Homo sapiens: one gene and its partner. The protein of the gene in region 2 interacts with the protein of the main gene of each other region in a pairwise test. Each region holds a gene or a part of one and is shown on either strand. Other genes may lie near its edges.

Region 1 (3,500 bases), on a different chromosome or scaffold from region 2:
CCTCACAGAAACACCCAGAATAATGTTTGAGCAAAAATCTGGGTAACCCATGGCTCAGTCAAGTTGACATAAAATAAATTGTCACAAGCCTGTTGAGATTCAAGTTTCAGAAGTGCTGAATAAGATGAACTCTTTTGAATTAGGTGAATTAGATGAACGCTTTCAGCTTTAAATTTTTATGATTATGTGAATTGACTCTAAAGCAGTGAGGGAATCAGAGAAAGAAGTGAAAAAATGGGGGAGTATATGGAGGTAAGCCCAATGAGCCACAATATGTGTGAGTTAAGATCTTTTTGAGAAATGTAACAGGCAAGCTGCTTATTAAAAATGAACAGTAATTCTGATTGAGCAATAATGTAGTTAAATTGAGCAGAATGAGTTTCCTATATTCCTACCTGGTTGGAATGTAAGCAATTGGCAATGGGTCCCTGGTTCTACTGTGAGACCTGTAGCCTCAGGAAAATCACAGATCATTCTAGAGCAGGGCTATCCAATAGAACTCCCCGCAGTGATGAGAACATTCCACATCTGCACTGTCCTGTATGGGTGACTACCGGCTACCTGTAGCCGCTGGGTACTTGAAATGAGGCCAATGTGATTGAAGAGCTGAATTTTAAATTGTATTTAATTTCAATTAACATTTAAACAGCCACATGTGGTTAGTGGCAACTGTAGGGGACAGCCCAAATCTAGGGCATTTCTTTTAGCTCTTAAGATAGAACCATGTAGTCTCCAGCTAGGGAACTGCTAGTGTTTGCCCTGACTCCCAGGGGGGTATGACAGGGTCCCAACAGCCTTATGCCTGAGGAAGGATCCTGAGTCATTTCCACTCACCACTACCATTTCCAACCCCATCACCAACAAAATAAAACTAAGCCAGCTCAGCTCTTTGAGCTTCTGGAAATATTTGCCTGTGTCCTGGCACATCGTTTTTGGAATTTTAGACCTGTGCTTTGTTTGGCTTCAGGACCTGTATGAGGCTGGAGAGAAGAAATGGGGGACAGATGAGGTGAAATTTCTAACTGTTCTCTGTTCCCGGAACCGAAATCACCTGTTGCATGGTAAGGCACTTACTTCATTTCCCAAAGAAAAGGAGTGAAAGATAGCAAAAACTATATTGCCCATAAGTAGTTGATAACCTTCCTCCTTCAGTTGGTACAAAGAACTGATTGTACCCAAGTGTCTTAGATTCTCACCCTGGAAATGTATTAGTCCAATGATGTATATGAAAGCTAATTTCTGAAAGATTAATTATGAATAATTAGAAAAAGTGCATGTAGTCATAGAAGTTTGGCATTCTTGTTTCTAGGAAACTGACCTTCACAGTCAGTCCTTTTTCTAAAGTAGCCCCAGTATTTTCATTCTAATGTAGTTACATATGAAAGTAATCTGTAGTAGATCAGGTAGCAATAAAATAGCAATGTTGGTTGATATTTATTCCTGTGTAATATCCAAGCTGTAAAGCTAATACAAGTGATTTCTTTAGGGGTTATGTTGTATAAGATGAATAGTGGATAATTTCAAATTTGATATGTTTCTAATTTGTTTCTGATAAATATAAACTTTGTAATGTGATTTTAACTTATTTGGGGGAAAGATACTAGACAATTTTAGAATATTTGCTGTCAGGTTCATATTCTTTTAAACAAGCAAGTAAGGATATAATAAGATATTTCATCTTTTATACGAGTTCTTTAGATCTTTAAGTACATTATAATTTTATAAACCCACCCACCATACCCTTTTAATCACACACACTGATTTGCAAAGCTTGTGGGAAATTTGAGAATGAGTTTGCTAAATTGAAAACATAAAGCAATTGAGAAGTACAACACATTCTGAAGTTGTAATTATTTCAGGTTTTTCACAGTGACAAAAAAACAGGTGATTACTCCTGTTAATCAATATCCCGGGCTACCATCAGGTACACAAACTTCTGACTCAGCTTCTTTCTTCACTTCCTTCCCTTGCCTGGTTACAAATAACAGGAATCTCCCCCTGGTGGTGTTTTCCAAGAACTGCAGGTCCTCAGAAGCCGATTTAGTGCATAAATGCATTTGCAAGAATTTTCACTTCTGGGTACAAGTCAATAGTTAGGCAGTTATGAAATATCTGTTTGTAAGCCACTGGGAGAAAATATTTTAAGCACTGTTTGGACTAGGAAAACTTCATAATTGTCTTACCAACCAACAATAATGGTGAGATTTCATAATAACTACCGTTTTGTTAATAATGTTCTATTTTCTAGGTGCAGTGTTAAGCATTTTATAAGCATTGTTTCTTGCAACACTCAATGGAGCAGTAATTATTTTCCCCATTTTACAGTGGAGAAAACTGAGGCTTAGAAAATGTGTCAATTAAGTTCTTTGATTCCAAGCCACACACACTGACTTCAATTTAAGTAAGAAAAGATGAAATAATATAGAATGGCACAGGAGGGAAAATGGAAAATACTGGTAGCTCACAGATTTGAACAGACAGCTGAACACCTTCAGGAAGAACAGAAATCAAGGCAGTTCTGGGGGTCTCAGTAGAAGGGAATAATGGATTTTATTTCTAAAGCAGAGTTTCTGAAGTTCGTTTTCTATTAAAAATGCTAAATATTGACCCCCTACTTCAGACTGGCTGAATTAGAATCTCTGAGTGTGACACCCAGGAAGTTTAATAGGTTTCTCTGAGGGTAAAGATGATGCAGTGCTTTTGGCCATCCCCGTGAGCTGCTCAATTAAAAAGTTCCCAGGAGAGAGTCTAACGGGTCCTGACTGGGTCAACTGCTCACGTGTTTGACAGAGGTTGTGGTGTATGTTGTTGGGTATGGTGTCCCTTGATTGACAGCCCTGTTAAAATCACATTGATGGAAGTGAGGCAGCACCCCAAAGAAGGCGATGGTGAGAAGATAAAATAGATACCTGCTCTAAGAAGTTTCCAGAAGGAGACAGCAAGAGAGGGGAACATATTCACCACATTCAAAAATACTTGGCAAAAAACAACAACAAATGTAATTATGTTTAAGTATTTTAAAAGATGCAACCAGCTGTTATTAACTGTGACTCAGTTCTGAAGCAGTTGAATTGTTCTAGTTTTGATGAGCCAAAAGGGAGATGACAGGGAGGTGATTGCCAAGGACAAAAACACAAAAAGACACATTCTGCTTATTAAGGAAACAATGAGAAAGGAAAGCAAAGCTCCCCAGAGGCCATCTCCATTTTATGTGTGAGGGTCCCAGATAAGGGAAAGGACTTGACTGATGTCCTCCAAACATCACAGCATTTCTTCCTCCTTATCTGGGGCCCATTCCACTCTGCACATCCCTCCTGGCTGCTTGCCCACATTACTAATTAGTTTCCTCCTGAAATATGCCAAAGAATAAATAGTGTAGGCTAGTTAAAAATGCTCATTCTCTCCATAAATTTTAGTTTCCTCTGTTTTTTCTTCCCAATAATACTATTTTGTTATTGTCTGCAGTGTTTGATGAATACAAAAGGATATCACAGAAGGAT
Region 2 (4,201 bases):
CTATCTGAGATGATGTCCCCAGAACTGGGGGGAAAAAACACTTGTAAAAAATTATCAAAGGAAAGAACTGACAGGACTTGATAGCTCTGAGGATTCCTCAGAAGCACTCGTCAAACAGCTTAGGGTTTAATTGCTATTCTGCCACTTAACTTCTTTGTGCCTCATCCTATCTGTAAAGGAGGGTAATAATAGTATTTGCAGGGACCAAGGGAAACTTTCCCTTCGCCCTCTGAAATTCTGCTGAAAAATCAACCCACAAAAAACAGATTAATTGAAGAAAAGGCATAGAAATTGTATTAATGTGTCCACGGGGAACCACAGAGTGACTACCCACTTCCCAGACGAGTTCAGAAGCTTAGGTGTCATTCAGGCAAAGGGGGTTGTGGGAGTGAGGGGAAGAGGAATTCTGCTGAGGGAGAAGGAATGGATCAGGGAACAGATTAACTAGCACATTATCATGTGAAGGGGTCTGTTCAGGTGTGATTATATTCTTGGTTTTGTAGGGAGGGGAAGAAAAAAACCGTTGTTCCTTTTGATGGGTCTGGACGCTAGGTAACGGCTTTGGGAGAGAGGGCGCGGGAGTAGGAAGGCCAGACACACCTTAAGGCTTAACTTAGTAAGTCAAACCACCATATTTTGGGTATGGATTTCTGAGCCCCAATATAATAGGTACTTCTTAGGGTTGTTGTGAGAATTGAAGATTATTAATTATAAAGTGCCTGGGTTGGTGCTTGGCACATCATAAACAACTCCATAAATGCTCGCTTTTACTGTCGTGGATACACGGAGGTGGGAGACCCAATTGGGTTCCCGCCCATGTTATTGGCCCCCACGGCTATATGGTCTTTACGGCTTCCTAGTCTCTTCACCATCTCTAAGGTTTGTTTCCTCATCTGAATCACAGGTGAGTGATTCTCAGGGTGACTCAAGAGGGCTGGTGCCAGTGGCAGAGCATGGGGAATCGAGGGAAGGCGCCTTCCTGTCAGAGGCAACACACCCAGTGGGAGGATCCTGCCCGCCCTGCTCTCTCCTACCTCCCCTTCCCGGGCTAAACGCTGGGGTCGGTCTGGCAGCTATTCCGGGAATCTGAGCGCGGATTCTGACAAAGGAGACGTCTTCCACCGACCACATCACATGGAGCTCCAAAGCACGAGCACGGCCTCCCGCGGCTGTGACCTCAAGGCGGAGCCCCTGGTGACCTCAGGGAGAGTCCCCACCCCCGCAGCCCGTGCGCCCGGGGCAGGGCGGGGGCAGGGAGAGGGGGCGGAATCGGGGCGGTCCCGGGAGCGCCCCGCCCCCTCCGCCTCCGCAGCGTTGACAGCCGCCCGCCACCGAGAGATCAGCTGTCAGAGATCAGAGGAAGAGGAAGGGGCGGAGCTGCTTTGCGGCCGGCCGCGGAGCAGTCAGCCGACTACAGAGAAGGGTAATCGGGTGTCCCCGGCGCCGCCCGGGGCCCTGAGGGCTGGCTAGGGTCCAGGCCGGGGGGGACGGGACAGACGAACCAGCCCCGTGTAGGAAGCGCGACAATGCCCCGCTACGGAGCGTCACTCCGCCAGAGCTGCCCCAGGTCCGGCCGGGAGCAGGGACAAGACGGGACCGCCGGAGCCCCCGGACTCCTTTGGATGGGCCTGGTGCTGGCGCTGGCGCTGGCGCTGGCGCTGGCGCTGGCTCTGTCTGACTCTCGGGTTCTCTGGGCTCCGGCAGAGGCTCACCCTCTTTCTCCCCAAGGCCATCCTGCCAGGTTACATCGCATAGTGCCCCGGCTCCGAGATGTCTTTGGGTGGGGGAACCTCACCTGCCCAATCTGCAAAGGTCTATTCACCGCCATCAACCTCGGGCTGAAGGTGAGCACTGAAGGGGCTGCAGTGGAGGAGGCCGAAAGGAGTGCTGGGGCTGGGGGCTGGGGCTGATGCTGGTGCGCTGGGCTCAGAATGCATCCCTGATGGAGAGGGTGGCATCTACAATCCATCACTGAGTTTGCTCCCCTTTGGGGACACCCATGGCTACATGCCACCATCACCCCATTGTGACCTTTGTGAAGTAAGAAAATAATGCAGACAGTGCCTGAGGAAGTCAGCTTGCCAAGCAAAGGCCTCATGCCACAGGCCGCTGAGCTAAAGAAGAAGCGATGGCCTGGTGCTGCCTGAGTTACAGGGCAATATCTGGAAGGCAAAGGTGTGCACTGAGCTTGGTGCACTGAGTCCTGCCCAGCCCCAGTTTGGAAATGGAGGCCCAAGGGGTGGTGGCCAGGGGTTGGCCTGGTTCCTCTGCTCTGCCTCTGATTTCTCACCATGCGCTCCTCCCACTGCAGAAGGAACCCAATGTGGCTCGCGTGGGCTCCGTGGCCATCAAGCTGTGCAATCTGCTGAAGATAGCACCACCTGCCGTGTGCCAATCCATTGTCCACCTCTTTGAGGATGACATGGTGGAGGTGTGGAGACGCTCAGTGCTGAGCCCATCTGAGGCCTGTGGCCTGCTCCTGGGCTCCACCTGTGGGCACTGGGACATTTTCTCATCTTGGAACATCTCTTTGCCTACTGTGCCGAAGCCGCCCCCCAAACCCCCTAGCCCCCCAGCCCCAGGTGCCCCTGTCAGCCGCATCCTCTTCCTCACTGACCTGCACTGGGATCATGACTACCTGGAGGGCACGGACCCTGACTGTGCAGACCCACTGTGCTGCCGCCGGGGTTCTGGCCTGCCGCCCGCATCCCGGCCAGGTGCCGGATACTGGGGCGAATACAGCAAGTGTGACCTGCCCCTGAGGACCCTGGAGAGCCTGTTGAGTGGGCTGGGCCCAGCCGGCCCTTTTGATATGGTGTACTGGACAGGAGACATCCCCGCACATGATGTCTGGCACCAGACTCGTCAGGACCAACTGCGGGCCCTGACCACCGTCACAGCACTTGTGAGGAAGTTCCTGGGGCCAGTGCCAGTGTACCCTGCTGTGGGTAACCATGAAAGCACACCTGTCAATAGCTTCCCTCCCCCCTTCATTGAGGGCAACCACTCCTCCCGCTGGCTCTATGAAGCGATGGCCAAGGCTTGGGAGCCCTGGCTGCCTGCCGAAGCCCTGCGCACCCTCAGGTACTTATCGTCCGTGGAAACCCAGGAAGGGAAAAGAAAGGTGAATGAAAGTGAAGGGAGAAGGGAACCTGGGGCATTGTCTCTGATTGCTCTAGCATGAGTCCTTAGTGCTCTTCATTTGGCTCCCCTAATCTGACTCCTCCTTCCCTTTCTACTGTTTTGCCGCACCAGGCTTTTTTTTTTTTTTTTTTTTTAGTTTAGTTTTTGTAGAGACAAGATCTTGCTATGTTGCCCAGGCTGGTCTCAAACACCTAACCTCAAGCAATCCTCCCGCCTCGGCCTCCCAAAATGCTGGGACCACAGGCATCAGCTACTGCTCCTGGCCCTCCCTTTTTTTTTTTTTTTTTTTTTTTTTTTTTGAGATGGAATCTTGCTCTGTTGCCCAGGCTGGAGTGCAGTGGCACCATCTCAGCTCACTACAGCCTCCACCTCCTGGGTTCAAGCAATTCTGCCTCAGCCTCCCAAGTACCTGGGACTACAGGTGCACGCCACCACACCCAGCTAATTTTTGTATTTTTAGTAGAGATGGGGTTTCACCATGTTGGCCAAGATGGTCTTGATCTCCTGACCTCATGATCTGCCCACCTCGGCCTCCCAAAGTGCTGGGATTACAGGCATGAACCACTGCACCCAGCTTTCCAGCCCTCCCTTTCTACTCTTATCTCCAGCCACCCTCCTTCAAAGGTCTGGCAGCATAACCTCTCTATGCCCCAGCTGTGTCTTTGCTCATGTTGGCCCTCTGGAAATGATTTCCCCCTTTTTTTTAAGTGCTCCAGTTTTTCCCACCTTATCCATCCCATGTCATCTTCCCTCTGTGTGGTCCTTGCTTCCCATTCTAGCTAACTCTTATCCCTCCCCCATACTCCTGGAGCCCTCTGCCCTCAGAGTCTTTTGTGTCACACAGACCCAATAATTAGAACTGTTTGGTCTCTGGCTAGACTGTGAGCTCCTTGCAGGTGGGGAAGATGTCATGTATGCTTTTACCCTCCACCCAAATGCCCAGCACAGGAGGACCAGGATTGGAACAAGTGTTGACCTCTCATGTTTACTTTGTTTCAGAATTGGGGGGTTCTATGCTCTTTCCCCATACCCCGGTCTCCGCCTCATCTCTCTCAAT

Evidence for each region. The genes of interacting proteins can lie anywhere in the genome.
Region 1: the proteins of SMPD1 (region 2) and ANXA4 interact in a two-hybrid assay, tested with the Homo sapiens proteins (one large-scale study listed by BioGRID and IntAct).

What each region holds. Positions count from the first base shown.
Region 1 is NC_000002.12:69,815,134-69,818,633, forward strand, and holds part of ANXA4 (annexin A4), read left to right. Parts: intron 1-967; coding exon 968-1,061; intron 1,062-3,465; coding exon 3,466-3,500. UniProt on the Homo sapiens protein: Calcium/phospholipid-binding protein which promotes membrane fusion and is involved in exocytosis.
Region 2 is NC_000011.10:6,389,073-6,393,273, forward strand, and holds the start of SMPD1 (sphingomyelin phosphodiesterase isoform 1 precursor), read left to right. Parts: upstream 1-1,401; 5' UTR 1,402-1,526; coding exon 1,527-1,844; intron 1,845-2,311; coding exon 2,312-3,084; coding exon of another isoform or gene 3,085-3,124; intron 3,125-4,143; coding exon 4,144-4,201. UniProt on the Homo sapiens protein: Converts sphingomyelin to ceramide. Exists as two enzymatic forms that arise from alternative trafficking of a single protein precursor, one that is targeted to the endolysosomal compartment, whereas the other is released extracellularly.